2 separate regions of the Homo sapiens genome follow, and region 1 is linked to region 2. A link means that fine-mapping ties the variant in region 2 to the expression of a gene that starts in the linked region. Tissue or cell type: visceral fat. Region 2 holds a variant in brackets; the other region holds the start of a gene. All regions are shown on one strand. Distances are from middle to middle.

The links. PIP is the estimated chance that this variant, and not a neighbour inherited with it, causes the effect.
Region 1: it holds the start of PPP3R1, and the variant in region 2 is fine-mapped to the expression of PPP3R1 in visceral fat (GTEx, PIP 0.97).

Annotation. Positions count from the first base shown.
Region 1 is chr2:68,249,211-68,257,319 of GRCh38, reverse strand. PPP3R1 (protein phosphatase 3 regulatory subunit B, alpha) reads left to right here and starts at 4,788. Exons shown (of 6, transcript NM_000945.4): 1 at 4,788-5,195. The coding sequence starts at 5,193. PPP3R1-AS1 (PPP3R1 and CNRIP1 antisense RNA 1) reads right to left here and starts at 5,717. Exons shown (of 2, transcript XR_001739527.2): 1 at 5,586-5,717. RefSeq lists an enhancer at 3,669-4,338 and silencers at 4,429-4,868, 5,129-5,178, 5,359-5,468.
Region 2 is chr2:68,059,522-68,067,611 of GRCh38, reverse strand. C1D (C1D nuclear receptor corepressor) reads left to right here and starts at 4,608. Exons shown (of 5, transcript NM_173177.3): 1 at 4,608-4,654. RefSeq lists enhancers at 4,257-4,757, 4,510-4,919, 3,841-5,040. The variant G/A (reference allele first, on the strand shown) is at 3,477.

The DNA of each region.
Region 1 (8,109 bases), 190 kb before region 2:
TTTCTTGGTATTCACTTTTATGTGCAAAAGACCAAATAAATGAGACAGACTTTTAATTCAGATAAACAATGTCATGACATAATCTAGGACACCTCAATGGACACCTCCATCTGTCTTGGTCCTCTCTGACCACACTGCTGGACCCCCCAGCCACTAGATGATGTTGATCAACCTTTGATCTTGAACTCCTCCCTTTCAGCTTCCAGGGTATCCTTACTGGGTCTTCTGCCCTTCTGGTTTGCTCATCATCTTTCCTATCACTTCTTTTTCCTTCTGCCACTCAAACGTAGATGCTCCCTTTAGTTCTGCCTTGCCCCAGGTCTTTACTGTTTAAACTCTCTGATCTCTGTCCTCTCTTTCTTGATTTCAAGTCATTTTTATGTAGATAATCACCCAACTGTAATGTACTCATACATGAAAAAATAATTAGCATAGAAAAAGAATAAAGCTCATTATGTAAAGAGCGTTAACAAACTGTTTAAAAACACTGTGGGCTTTTCTTCTAACACACAAAATTAGTGTGAATGCAAGAGGTTTAGGAATAAATCTTATGAAGTCTTTTTCTTTCCTTTTCTTTTTGTTCCAGTGCATAGTATGGAAACAACTTATGTAACTAATTTATCATATAATTTTTTTATTAGGAAACTCCTAATTTAAAAACTGTCCTAATTTGTATTTCATCTAAAAAGTAAGTGATAGAAGGCTTAATTTTGAACAAATTCAATATTCTTAATTCTCTTGTGGGAACTGGAAAAGTTATACAAAGTCCATAATTTTAAAAGTAATTATATGTACAATTAAAGAAAAAAACCCATCTAGTACTTGGAATACATTTTTTCCCAAATGCATTAATTCAAAAAGATACATATATTTAAGAGTATTATTTTCTACTATTGAACTTTTAGTAGCAAATACACAGAATTTCAGCTACATTGTAATTTAAGTAGGCTTTTTGCAGGAAGGCCATTGTTTATAGAACTCTTTGTGAAATGGTTTCTATGGAGAAATGAGTTTCCAAGATGGAATTTAGATCCTTGGCAAAAACCTCTGCTGCTTAGCAGGAAGGGAATGACCCACTTCTCTTGGCATCTCAGGTGCCTGGGAGCCCTTTCTCAACCACACCCTGGAGTAGGGGGCTAGCTTGCATCCCTGCGTTCTCCTCATTACAAAAAAGAATTCTGAGAAGGAAGGTGATCTATTCCCTATGCAACCTCAGTGTCCACTGAGAAGGGAATCTTGTGGTATGGAACTATGTGGCAAAAAGGTACAAAGTATTCTTACACCTGGAATTCTTAACCTGGGGCATGCATTTTATCTAAGAGGAGAGGCTGAAGTTTCCTCCAACTTTCCATTCTAAAAAGGAACAGACATTGCTTTCAAGTGGTTTTAACTGACTTTCATTTTTGATTGGCATTTTCTTCCTATGTACAAGAAGAGTAGAAAAATCAAACATAGTTTCTAGTTGATGTTAGTAAATATAATCATTACTAAAAGTGGCCATTTGGGGAGTAATACTGTAAATACCTTAAACAACTACAGAAATGGTAATTTGTTTCTCCTGAAACCCTTAAATATTATATATAAAGTAATGGCAGTGATCAGTCCTTTAAGAGTAAGGCAACTTTCTGGATGTCACTGTTATCTTAAAGGTCTACGGAGGAAATAATATCTTGTGACATTTCTAACTTCCTAATGGTAATTGTGGAGACACAGAAGTCTGAGGCTGCCTATGGTCAAACATGACTGTAAACATTACCCACTTTTTTTTTTTTTTTTTGAGACAGAGTCTTGCTCTGCTGCCCAGGCTGGAGTGCAATAGTGGTTCGATCTTGGCTCACTGCAACCTCCATCCCCCAGGTTCAAGCAATTCTCCTGCCTCAGCCTCCCAAGTAGCTGGGATTACAGCTACGTACTAAAACACCCAGCTAATTTTTGTATTTTTCGTAAAGACAGGGTCTCACCAGTTTGGCCAGGCTGATCTTGAACTCCTGACCTCAGGTGATCCACTCACCTTGGCCTCCCAAAGTGCTGGGATTACAGGCGTGAGCCACTTTGCCCGGTCTACTCTCTCTTTCTTAAAACCTTCTTTTCCTTTAATTTTCTACCTAGCAGCTTTATTATCATTTCTGGGTCTTTTCCTTCTCCTATCACTAATTAAATAAGGAAAAATTTGAAGATTTCATTTTAATCCTTTTTAAAATTGATTCCCATATCTCTATTCCTTTCTAACCTGCACTTTCAGCTTCTATTTGGGTGCTTCCACTGGGATAGCTCATCAGCAACTAAAACTTTGCATCTTTAAATCTAAACTCATCTCTTCTCACTCAATAGCCAAACTTTGGACCTCTCCATTTCTCTTAATGTTAACACTATTTCCTGTCATCAAAACGAAAACTGGTCACCTTTTATTTCTCCCTCTCTGTTCCACACATCCACTATGTTGCATAGTCAGTCCATTTTTGCTTCATGTTGTTCATACTCGCCTTTCCTTTCCTCTGCCATTGGTATCCCTTATCACCTCATGCCTACCTGTTACTAATTCTTGTAACTGGCATCCCTGTCTTAAGTGTTTCTCCCTTCAATTTATCTGACATAATTCTTTCTGATAATCATCTAAGAGCTTGTTAAATTTTCTAGGAAAAATAAGCCACAAAGATATGTCCATTACCTCTTCATTTATCTAGTTATTTAAAAACATGTATGCCTTTAGCAGGGCTATTTGGTACATACATTTTTAAAAACACATATGCTTCTGCAGGACTGTTTGGTACCTGTTCCCACTCACACTAAGCTTTACATCAAAATTTAATGGAAAGAGACAAAAAGGAGAATGACTACTTACCATACTTTTCCCCTCAGCCTTTTGATGAAAAACCTATTAAAGGTGCATTTTGGATTTACTTATCTTACTGAATTCAGACTAGTATAAATTGCCTCCAACACAACAAAATTATGGGTTATTTTAAATCCACTGTATTCCAAATAGCTCGAATTCCTTCTTAGTGCATACCCCTTAGTTAAAATAATTTGATTTTCACTGAAAATGTCCAAGGGACACAAACAAATGCAGTTAGCATGATTACCTCTGGTAAGTGGAGAGAGGAAGAATTTTGCATACAGTACTTTTTCTTAAAAAGCACGTCTTTTTATGATAAAAAACTAATTTTAAATAGTATACCTAGAAAACGTTACACATATACCCTAGGGACTTTTTCTTGTTCTGTAATATGTTAGTATCAAATAGCAACATATTTAAATCAAGAAACTTGTGGAAGAAAGTGTCCCTTCTTGGCCTTTCCTTGATACATTCACTGTGTGACACAGCTTGTTATGTCTAAGTTCTTTTCCTTATTCATCCTGACACAGAAGCAAAGTAGCTCCTGAAGGGGGAAGGGGAGGGATGGAGGGGCGGGGAGGGGGGGATTGACAGAGAGAGAAAGACAGAGAGAAAGAGAGACAGGAACCATTTAGTCCTAGGGCAAATCGCTGAGCGTTTATTAGAAAAAAATGCATGCTCATCATATGGAAAAATAATTAGCACATAAAAAGAATAAAGTTCTCATGTAAGGATCATTAAGACTTTTTTAAAAAAAAACAACACAATGGCTTTTTATAAAATGACTCAAAGGCTTTATCAATAAGGAGTTTCCGATCACTCAGAAAACATCCTCTCTCTCTCTCTCACACACACACACACACACACACACACTCTCAAACACACACGAGTGCGGGCGATTATCAAGGCTTGTAAAGGAATAACTGGTTAAAATAGTTGCAAAATGTTTTCTTCGTTATCCTCATCACACCTCTCCTGACAGCTTTATTTCTTCTCTCGAACATAAATTTCCTCCTTATGCTTTTCTGGATGTAATTTCCTATTGTAATCTGAATTTTCTGGGAAGATAATTGCCACAGGAGTGGATATAGCTCTACTAAAAGGATAAGCGGGCAATCTACATTCGAGTTTTTTTCTTTTTTTAAACAAAAACTGATGGACTCCGCCAAAGGGGAGTCTGGACGGTTTATGGGAATGCAGAGCTGGGTGGAAAGTCTTTCTGCGAGTGGGAAGTATCCCTTCTCCTCGTTTGCCCAGGTTCTCCCCACGCCTCGGGCTGCGGCCAGCTTTGGCTCGCTTCTCTGTCTTTGCAACCTGGTTCCTGACTCTGCCAATTCATATTACAGATGGGCCTGCGGGTGCTGCACCGGGGTGACAGCAGTCCTGATGGGCCGTGCAATTCTGTAGTGGATCCAAGTCGGTACACGGATGCACAGATACCTTTGACTGCCTCTCGCAGGACTTGGATTTTTCCTGTTTTTTGGTGCGGCATCCGGGTGGTTCTGACACCCTAAGACTGCTCCTCTGCTCCTCCTCTCCCGCAAGGCTTCCACTCCAGGGCCCCTGTCCCCCTTTCGCTAGCACTCGCGCACCCCTCGCGCTTCCTCCCGCCGGGGAACCCTCGCATTTCCTCCTTCCCCTCCCAGCCTTGCCTTCTTCCCCGCCCGCCTCCAGCCACATGACCGGAAGGGCTCCGCCACGCGACGTCACCGACGTCCGCGCCCCCGCCCCTGGCCTCCCCCCACCCTGCACGCAAGGGGCGGCCGGCTGAGGGGCGAACGTGGTCCGCGCGCTCAGCGTTCCCCAACCAGAGCTCGCCAGAGCGCCGCGGCACTCGCCGCCCAGCGGGGCGCGCAGGTTCCCGGATGTGCGGCGCTCGCGGAAGCCCCGCCCCCGCCCCGCGCGCTGCAGCACTCCGCTTTCCCCTCCCTCTCCGCCCTCCCCTTTTTTCGTGCCTTGAGGTTGCGGGTCAGCGCGAGCCGCTGCAGTGAGTCCGTCACGGCTCCGGCGCGAGCGCGAGGCTGCAGCCCCCGAGTTTCCCGGCCGTCTTCGCCCCCTCTCCCCCTCCTTTCTTCTTCTCTGCCTCTCCTGCCTCTCGCCGCTGCTCCTCCCGCGCTCTCCGGCTCTGAATCTCGACCTTAATTTATTTCCCCCTACCCTGCCCGCTCCCTCGCGTGCCCAATCGCCCGGCCGGCGCGGGCCCCGCGGCGCCGCCTCCCCTCCCCCACGCGCGCCCCCTCCCCGCCGGCGACCCGAGGGCCGCAGCTGGGCCGCCGCCGCCGTTTCCTGCGAGCCAGCCTGAGCGCAACACTTCTCCGAGCCAGCGAGCCAGCGAGCCGCCGACCCGCCGAGCAAAATGGTGAGACCTTGGCTTCCTCGATGCACCATCCCTCCCCCTACTGCCGCCGTCCGGGTCGGGTGCGGGGGCGAGCCCCGACGCCCCCGGTCGGCTGTCCCCCGTGGAAAATTCCAGAGACCCGGGCCCGGCGGGTCCCGCGGCGGTTGCGGGCGAGCCGGAGAGGGCGGCGGGGCGGCTGCTGACAGGACGGCGGCGGGGCCCCCGCGCCCGCCCCCGGCCTCTGCGGGGCGCCCCTCTGCTGCTCGGCCGCCGCCCCGCCGTCGCCCCACCCCCGCGCCGCCGGTCCCGCCCGGCATCGACCCCCGCGGGCACCGCTGACCATCAGCCCGGCGCACTCTCCTTCTCGCGACCCTCCTCCACGTGGAGCACCCCCCTCCCCTCCACACTCACTCTGTTTTTCGAGTTCGAGGGTATTCTGAAATCCTTTGGAAATAACAATATGTGGCAAATGGCACTTTACATAAGACCCACTTACTCTCCAGAGCTGCTGCTGCTTCCACTCACTGCCTGTTTCCCAGCAGTGAGTCTTGGCAGGGAACCCTGCCACTCACTTCCCCTCTCCTGCGAGCGTCGGTTTAGCTGCGGTGCGCAGCCCTGCGGGGTTTCCGTTCGCTGCTGCTTTGCTCGCTGCCCTGGCGAACCGGAAAGATCCAAGGTGTTTGTTCACGAAAACATACGCGAACTTGGTTTGGGAGAAATGGGGGCGCTTAATTTTTCATGCTTCCGTTACTACCAAGGGTTTTTTCATTTTCTTTGGTACCTTCTTGTGTCTCTCTCTTGGAGTGGTTGTTTTTGAATCATGGCGATTTTAATTTGTCTTTCCTTACCCTCACATTAATCCCTAGGTAGAATTCGCTGCTGTAGTGTTTCAGACCGACGCTAGGGGTGTGTCTCCCGCCTCTGTCGCTGCAGCCAAGAAATCAACGACGCCCTTTTAGCCTGTTACCTTACCGGTTCTCTCGCTCGGGGAAGCCCTAGTCGTTAGTTTCCTCTTTGTAATCAAGAGTTGTATACACAGTAGAGAAAGTTCAGAGTGCTATTCCGCGTATATCAGATACTCCATCATGCGATTCAGTTATTAGGCTTTCTCTAAAAGTCTTTGAACAGTTGTCAGAAGACTTAAACTGGTTGACGGTGGGTAATTTCTCGCATCTTTTCCACTGTATGGTATCCCACCCTGTATGTAGAATTTAAGTGCTTCAGTGTACGTGGTGGATTACTGAAGGGAGGAATGCTGTTGCTTACAACTTAAAATCGATTTGGTGAAATCGATTTTAAGGGAAGAACGTGAAATTAGAATATTCAGGTAAGTCAGCTTTTATTTAAAATATAGGGCAAATGAGTAAGTGCTTACTGGTGCACTTAAAACCCAGATTAAGAGCAGACTTAAATGATTGCCGATTTTGATGTGTAGAGAAAGTTTTTCCTTGCCAACTTGCGAGGCAGCTCAGAGAGGCAACTTTGGCACCTGAAAGTCACAAAACAATTTAGGAAGATCATAGCCATTCATCATATAATCTTTTTGTTGGCATAGTCTTTTGAAGTGAAGAATTGCATTTCAGTGCTTTAATAGAATTTCCTTATGCACATGCTTTACTTGAAGGTCAGGATCTTGAAGATCTTTGTTCATTGCAGGGAATGTTTTTACTTAGCTTTATAAACAGCACATTTGAGGAACAATGATCTAGCCTTTTGTTGTTTATATATTATACAGCGAAGTGGTATGGTTTCCAAATAGTAACTCTCTTGCGGTGCACCCCGTCCTCTGTTTTTTGAACAACAGACTGAAACTGGGAAGTTCTCTTTTAGCTCTTCAATTTCTTATTTTCCTGTTAACTCTGTTTTCTTGTCTTTTAAAATATTTTACGGTGTATCAGACGATGTTGTTTCCTGCCAGGTCATTATGTTCCTTTTCTTCCCAGCTCCCTTTTCAGTATTTATTTCCTAATTCAACTGTTGGGTTTTTTTTTTTCCTCTTTCATCCTCCCAATACCATTTCAGGACCTACATAATGTTGGCAGTGGCTTTCCAACTTTAGGGTTATTTTGGTCTGCTGAATACAGTACTGGTTTGAAAGTATCAAGACCATACCCATAACTCAACTTTGCCATATGGGATGTCGATTAACCCAAATAAATCAGGCTTTGGAGTGATCTGGTTAATTTTTCTGGTTAATTGAACATACAATTCTGAAAACTTTCACACCCTTTGGAAAATCTCTCTTAGAACTCTTATTATTTACATTCTGTCAACAGCATTTACAGTATGAAATATCACTAGTTAATTCAAGTATGGAAAGTAAAAAGGCTTATAAGATTTAAATGTACTCTCAAGGATCTTTTCTGACAGGTATTAATTTTAGTTGGTGCCTTAAACGTAGTTTATTTTTTTTTTTCCTGAAAGTTAAAGTCTTTCCCTCCCTTCACCCTTATTTGAGTTTTAAATTGTTAAGCGTCCAGGGAGAATGAAGGTTATATGTTAAAAAAAAAAATCTTGTAAATAGTGAGCTCCTAGGAATTTCCCCTGAACGAGGTGTTTTATATATGTTTTTGTTGAAATAGATAATACGGATTTTGTTCTGGATACTTAAATGAACATAATATAAAGGTAATTGTTTTACGTTTTGTTTCTTAAGGGAACTTTAAATTTTATAAAGGCCTTTTCATGTCTTTGTGCTTTTAAACTTTTAAATTTTTTTTTATCTCCATGATCTGCATCTAGAACTTAAAACAAATTTATTGCCGTCTATAACTGTATGTAGAGTTTTACACAACATATTCTAGTTCAGATTCTGTGGCAAAGGCCACTTTTTAGAAAAAAAAAAACCTGTCTTATGACCAGCGGAATTAAAATTCACATCTGTCCTGAGAAAATTTATCCACTCATTTTGTCCCATAGTGAATGAGAAAATTAA
Region 2 (8,090 bases):
TATATGATGGATTACATTTACTGATTTGTGTATGTTGAACCATCCTTGCATCCCAGGGATGAAGCCAGCTTGATCCTGGTGGATAAGCTTTTTGATGTGCTGCTGGATCTGGTTTGCCAGTATTTTATTGAGGATTTTTGCATCAATGTTCATCAGGGATATTGGTCTAAAATTCTCTTTTTTTGTTGTGTCTCTGCCAGGCTTTGGTATCAGGATGATGCTGGCCTCATAAAATGAATTAAGGAGGATTCCCTCTTTTTCTATTGATGGGAATACTTTCAGAAGGAATGGTACCAGCTCCTCTTTGTACCTCTGGTAGAATTCGGCTGTGAATCCGTCTGGTCCTGGACTTTTTTTGGTTGGCTATTAATTATTGCCTCAGTTTCAGAAACTGTTATTGGTCTATTCAGGGATTCAACTTCTTCCTGGTTTAGTCTTGGGAGGGTGTATGTGTCGAGGAATTTATCCATTTCTTCTAGATTTTCTAGTTTATTTGTGTAGAGGTGTTTATAGTATTCTCTGATGGTAGTTTGTATTTCTGTGGGATCGGTGGTGATATCCCCTTTATCATTTTTTACTGTGTCTATTTGATTATTCTCTCTTCTTTATTAGTCTTGCTAGTGGCCTATCAATTTGGTTGATCTTTTCAAAAACCAGCTCCTGGATTCATTGATTTTTTGAAGGGCTTTTTGTTTCTCTATCTCCTTCAGTTCTGCTCTGATCTTAGTTATTTCTTGCCTTCTGCTAGCTTTTGAATGTGTTTGCTCTTGCTTCTCTAGTTCTTTTAATTGTGATGTTAGGGTGTCAATTTTAGATCTTTCCTGCTTTCTCTTGTGGGCATTTAGTGCTATAAATTTCCCTCTACACACTGCTTTAAATGTGTCCCAGAGATTCTGGTATGTTGTGTCTTTGTTCTCATTGGTTTCAAACAACATCTTTATTTCTGCCTTCATTTTGTTATGTACCCAGTAGTCATTCAGGAGCAGGTTGTTCTGTTTCCATGTAGTTAAGCGGTTTTGAGTGAGTCTCTTAATCCTGAGTTCTAGTTTGATTGCACTGTGGCCTGAGAGACAGTTTGTTATAATTTCTGTTCTTTTACATTTGCTGAGGAGTACTTTACTTCTAAATATGTGGTCAATTTTGGAATAAGTGTGATGTGGTGCTGAGAAGAATGTATATTCTGTTAATTTGGGGTGGAGATTTCTGTAGATGTCTACTAGGTCTGCTTGGTGCAGAGCTGAGTTCAATTCCTGGATATCCTTGTTAACTTTCTGTCTCGTTGATCTGTCTAATATTGACAGTGGGGTGTTAAAGTCTCCCATTATTATTGTGTGGGAGTCTAAGTCTCTTTATAGGTCTCTAAGGGCTTGCTTTATGAATCTGGGTGCTCCTGTATTGGGTGCATGTATAGGTAGTATAGTTAGCTCTTCCTATTGAATTGATCCATTTACCATTATGTAATGGCCTTCTTTGTCTCTTTTGATCTTTGTTGGTTTAAAGTCTGGTTTATCAGAGATTAGGATTGCAACTCCTGCTTTTTTTTGTTTTCCATTTGCTTGGTAGATCGTCCTCCAGCCCTTTATTTTAGCCTATGTGTGTCTCTGAATGTGAGTTGGGTCTCCTGAATACAGCACACTGATGGGTCTTGACTCTTTATCCAATCTGCCAGTCTATGTCTTTTAATTGGAGCATTTAGCCCATTTACATTTCAGGTTAATATTGTTATGTGTGAATTTGATCCTGTCATTATGATGTTAGCTGGTTATTTCGCTCATTAGTTGATGCAGTTTCTTCCTAGCATTGATGGCCTTTACAATTGGCATGTTTTTGCAGTGGCTGGTACCAGTTGTTCCTTTCCATCTTTAGTGCTTCCTTCAGGAGTTCTTGTAAGGCAGGCCTGGTGGTGACAAAATCTCTCAGTATATTTGTCTGTAAAGGATTTTATTTCTCCTTCACTTATGAAGCTTAGTTTGGCTGGATATGATATTCTGGGTTGAAAATTCTTTTCTTTAAGAATGTTGAATATTGGCCCCCACTCTCTTCTGGCTTGTAGAGTTTCTGCCGAGAGATCAGCTGTTACTATGATGGGCTTCCCTTTGTGGGTAACCTGACCTTTCTGGCTGCCCTTAACATTTTTTCCTTCATTTCAACTTTGGTGAATCTGACAATTATGTGTCTTGGAGTTGCTCTTCTCGACGAGTATCTTTGTGGTGTTCTCTGTATTTCCTGAATTTGCATGTTGGCCAGCTTCACTAGGTTGGGGAAGTTCTCCTGGATGATATCCTGAAGAGTGTTTTCCAACTTGGTTCCATTCTCCCAGTCACTTTCAGGTACACAATTCAGATGCAGATTTGGTCTTTTCACAAAGTCTCATATTTCTTGGAGGCTTTGTTCATTTCTTTTTACTCTTTTTTCTCTAAACTTCTCTTCTTGCTTCATTTCATTCATTTGATCTTCAATCACTGATACTCTTTCTTCCACTTGATCAAATCGGCTACTGAAGCTTGTGCATGCGTCACGTTCTTCTCGTGCCACGATTTTCAGTTCCATCAGTCATTTAAGGACTTCTCTACACTGTTTATTCTAGTTAGCCATTCGTCTAATCTTTTTTCAAGGTTTTTAGCTTCTTTGCAATGGGTTCAAACATCCTCCTTTAGCTCGGAGAAGTTTGTTATTACCAGTCGTCTGAAGCTTTCTTCTCTCAATTTGTCAAAGTCATTCTCTGTCCAGGTTTGTTCCATTGCTGGTGAGGAGCTGCATTCCTTTGGAGGAGAAGAGGCGCTCTGATTTTTAGAATTTTCGGCTTTTCTGCTCTGATTTATCCCCATCTTTGTGGTTTTATCTACCTTTGGTCTTTGATGATGGTGACGTACAGATGGGTTTTTGGTGTGGATGTCTTTTCTTTTTGTTAGTTTTCCTTCTAACAGTCAGGACCCTCAGCTGCAGGTCTGTTGGAGTTTGCTGAAGGTCCACTCTAGACCCTGTTTGCCTGGGTGTCACCATCGGAGGCTGCAGAACAGCAAATATTGCAGAATGGCAAATATTGCTGCCTGATCCTTCCTCTGGAAGCTTCATCTCAGAGGGGCACCCAGCTGTATGAGGTGTCAGTTGGCCCCTGCTGGGAGGTGTCTCCCAGTTAGGCTACTCGGGGGTCAGGGACCCACTTGAGGAGACAGTCTGTCCGTTCTCAGATCTCAAACTCCGTGCTGGGAGAAGCACTACTCTCTTCAAAGCTGTCAGACGGACATTTAAGTCTGCAGAACTTTCTGCTGCCTTTTGTTCAGCTATGCCTTGCCCCCAGAGGTGGGGTCTACAGAGGCAGGCAGGCCTCCTTGAGCTGCGATGGGCTCCACCCAGTTCAAGCTTCCTGGCCACTTTGTTTATCTACTTAAGCCTCAGCAATGGCAGACGCCCCTCCCCCAGCCTCGCTGCTGCCTTGCAGTTTGATCTCAGACTGCTGTGGTAGCAGTGAGCCA[G/A]GCTCCGTGGGCGTGGGACCCTCTGAGCCAGTCACGGGATATAATCTTCTGGTGTGCCGTTTGCTAAGACCGTTGGAAAAGCACAGTATTAGGATGGGAGTGTCCCAATTTTCCAGGTACCGTCTATCATGGCTTCCCTTTGCTAAGAAAGGGAATTCCCTGATCCCTTGTGCTTCCCGGGTGAGGTCATGCCTCGCCCTGCTCTGTGGGCTGCACCCAGTGTCTGAGAAGCCCCAGTGAGATGAACCCGGTACCTCAGTTGGAAATGCAGAAATCACCCATCTTCTGCGTTGCTCATGCTGGGAGCTGTAGACTGGAGCTGTTCCTATTCGGCCACTTTGGAACCTCCCCCAAAACTTTAAATATTACATACATGGTGCTTGTTCAAAATGCTTTTACATGCATTTAATATACGGACAACTGTTTCATGCATAACTTTTTATCAAATTACAGCCGTGGAATGACAAGTTACAAATGTTAAGACAATGCTCAATCGCTTATACTACACTTTCAATGAACAGTATGTACAGTTTCTGTTAATGCCTTTATTTTCTATTATGTTTGTTCTGATTGCATACATTGAAATGCAATTTTACATTTATTTGAAACTAATAAAAAATTTGGGCTTGTATTTTGCACATATTTTCCCCATTTTTCTACTAATTCATTTTTACTGTATTTTATAGAAGTACCTTTTACTGACAGATTGGAAAAATAAAGAACCCATTCTTCCCCACGGATAATCTAATAAAGAACCTGTTCTTCCCCACGGATAATCTGGGAAGCTGCTCTAAGAGGCTCATCTAGAGGCAGACAATAAAAGGGTAGAAAGAATGAGGGCCCTGAAAAAAGCTTCTGGGAAAGTAAAAACCCGAACAAAGTTTCGATAACTAAGATTTTTTTCCTGGTTAAATACACTCAACCTGTATTTGGGGTGAGTGTTAGCCGGGTACAAAGGTAGACAAAAGTTCCGAGTGCCGCCGCAATCGTCTCCCACAACATGGGTCTGAGCTACTCAAAATGAGATTTGCCTTTGGAGAAGAGTTAAGGAGCAGGGGGCGTGGCGAGCAGCGTGAGATCATCGGGAAGCGCCGCTCGTGGCGGGGGCAGAGCCGGCGCGTCATTGTCGTCATCGTTGCCCGACCGCTTTCCGGGAGACTGGAGTCGAAGGCCGTGAGGTATTTTTCTAAGGTGTAGTTTCAGTTTTTCTCCTGCTCCTGTTTAACTCCGCTTTTCCTCTCCTGGGATTCCCCTGTCATCCTCTGGGCAGACTGAGAAAATCGGAGTTTGGCTGCGTAGCCTTCCAGGAATGCAGTCTCTCACAGCTCTTCGTTGGGGCAGCATTGTTGGCAGGTCCCCCACTTCCGCTTGTTTTGGGGCTGCTTGCAGGCTTTGGCTTACCCCGGCCCCTCATTTCTCTCTTTTGCTCCGGTCTCTCTCTTTTTCTTCGTTTGTTAACCACCCCCTTCTCAAATCTTGGAAGACGAAGAAATTAAAAACAAAAATCAAAAAACATTGAAGTCTTCACAATTTTCAGCTGTTTTCAATCTTGCTTAGGGAGAGAGGCTAAAGTGGAACGTCTAGGGGAGTAACTTTACTGTGTTAGCTCCGTTTATCATTCACATTCACAGACTGCCTGCTGCTGCAGTATTAGCTCATCTGAGATAGTGGGCTAATTTCGACCTTTAGCTGAAATCTGTAGTGGGTAATCCAAGAGAGCAGTTTTTCTTGATGACCCGGATAAGTTCAGTGTAACTCAAACTTGTTTCAAAATAGCTTTAATGTCCTCAATGTTTGCTGACTACAGTTCAGTTTTGGCTTGATAAAGATGTATTTGTCGCAATGAGATGTTTGCTATCCACTTATTAACCTATTAGGACTGTCTGATGGTGGACTGAACCAAGACTTAACCGTGATTTTTTAAAAAATTAAATTTAAAAATTTTGTGGGTACATAGGTGTATATATTTATGGGGTACACGAGATGTTTTGATACAGGCATGCAATATGTAAGAATCACATGGAAAATGGGGTATCCATCCCTTCAGGCACTTATCCTTTGTGTTACAAACAATCCAGTTATACTTTTAGTTATTTAACTCTGTATTTTTGATTCAAAAACAACAGATTAGCCCTATTGAAGTACAGAGAAATGTTTGTGTTTGGTGGAAATGATAGAACTCATTGTTTTGTTGAAAGATAGTGACAAGTGTGAATAACGGTTTTTCAAAATAAAATTCTCAGTCAAAAGATACTACAGCTGCCTTCAGTTAGCTGTGTTGTATGTATCACAGTTCAAAAGTAATGTAATTTTTTTCTTAACTGCTTTTACCTTTTCAAATGGCTCTTCATATGTATTATCTCAGCTACTGTTTCCAAAGTTGACCCTTCAAGCATGGCTCTAAATAGTTCACATTGGATTAGAGTATTTGGTAATTTTCACTTTTAGTAAAATACTATCTAATGTATTGAGTGCTAACTGAGCCAGGCCCCGTTCTAATGGCTTTTATCTAGTTTATTTAATCTGTGCAACAACACTATATACTCTTATTTCAGAAATAAGATAATTGTAATAATCAACTTCCATATGTTTTGGAAGGTAATTTTGCTGCTTGATTGCTGTAATTTTGGAAATGCTTTGAATTAAACTTTGAATAGAAGTGAATTTAATTTAATGTAATTGTTCATCTCAATCTTGAGCAATATCCTCGTAATTTATATACTCTCCTATTAGACTTTGGGATAAATTTATTTTTAGATGTTAATATATTTTTTAGAAAAGGAAGAAGTCTATATTTACTCAGGAATTGTACTGTGGGACTGAAGGAGAGTTACAGACAACACTAACATGGAGTCACTGTTTGCCCAAGACAGCAATATTTATTGAGAACTTGTGTGTACATTTCATTGTTATTTTCTCCTAAGATAATGCAGTGCGAAAAAGTCATTACAGTAATTCATTACAGTAATAGAATTCTGGTGCAACAACAGCAAATGGCTCTCAAATTCCAAAAAACAATCATGTTGGATTTGTTCTTTGGCTTAGTTCATAACTGTGTATAATTATTTGGTGTAGAGATGGGAAGAGCCCTGGAATGTACATTATCGTATGTTTGTTTGGATCCATGTGGTGACTTTCTAGTATCTGTAAGCTCAAACTGTAATCTGATATTAAGAGTTTCCAAAATTACGTCTTAGGTTACTTTGATTGGTTTTAGTTAGTAAACAAATAGTTGCTAACTAACTAATACATGACAAGACATTATGTTAGTGATGTGGAGTTCAAAATGTGCCTCGACATGAATCTTCCCTTGAGCAATAGCCCAGTGAGTAAATAACCAATGGAAAGGTAGGAGGAGAGGAGTGACATGATCTGACTTAGGTTTGTTTTATTTTATTTTATTTTACTTTATTGTCTTTTGTTTTCTTTTGTTTCCTTTCCTGCCCTGCTCTGCCCTTGCCCGCCCTGCCCCACCCCATCTCGCCCCTCTTTTCTTTTGGAGTCTCACTCTGTTGCTCAGGCTGGAGTGCAGTGGCACAATCTCGGCTCACTGCAACCTCCGCCTCCTGGGTTCCAACGATTCTCCTGCCTCAGCCTCCGGAGTAGCTGGGATTACAGGCACCCGTCGCCATGCCCAGCTAATTTTTTGTGTTTTTAGTAGAGTTAGGGTTTCACCATGTTGGCCAGGCTGGTCTCGAACCCCTGACCTCAGGTGATCCGCCTGTCTCAGCCTTCTAAAGTGCTGGGATTACAGGCGTCAGTCACTGCGCCCAGCCTGACTCACGTTTTAATAGAATCTTCTCTGGCTGCTGTGTTTAAGAATAGTTTGCTGTGGGGTGGGGTAGGTGAAAACCAGGAGACTAATCACGGAGGTGTTGTAGTTCAGATGAGATGATAACATCTTAACTGGCTGGAAAGAAGTGAAGGTGGAGAAGCAGTTTAATTTTAGATGTATTTTCTAGGAAAAGCAAACAGAATTGCTTACAGATTGAAAGTGAATTGTAAGAATAAGGTTATTGTCAAAGTTTGGGGCTTGAGCAACTAGAAGAAGGGAATTGCCATTAACTGAGAAGTAGAAAACTGTGGGAGGGGCAGGTTTGTGGGAAGATTCGGAGTTCAGTTAAGGACATGATAAGTTTTTGATGTCTGTTAGTCATCTAAGTGGAGATGTTGAGTAGGCAGTTGAATATGTTCATTCTGGACTTCAGAGTGGTCATTGCTGGAAACAGACGTTTGGGAATTGTCAGTGAACAGATGGTATTTAAAGTTGTGAGACCGGAGACAGTCGTTAAAGGAGTAAATGTAGACAGAAAAGAGAAGGGGCACAAGGCCTGAGTCCTTAGGCATTTTAACAAGTTGGGAAAATGAGGAATAACCACCAAATGAGACAGACTGAGCAGCCAGTGAGGGACAAGGACAATTTTGAGTCTGGTGTTGTAGAATTTACAGTAGAGTAGTATGTTCAGTTTTGTCAGGTGCAGCTGATGGATCAGGTGAAATGAAGATTGACACCTTTGGATTTATCAAGAACTTAAGGAGTGTTATTGATAGATATGTGATAATGTTAAGTCAAGCAGATAGTTGCACACCAGTGTGATAACTGTATTACAGTTA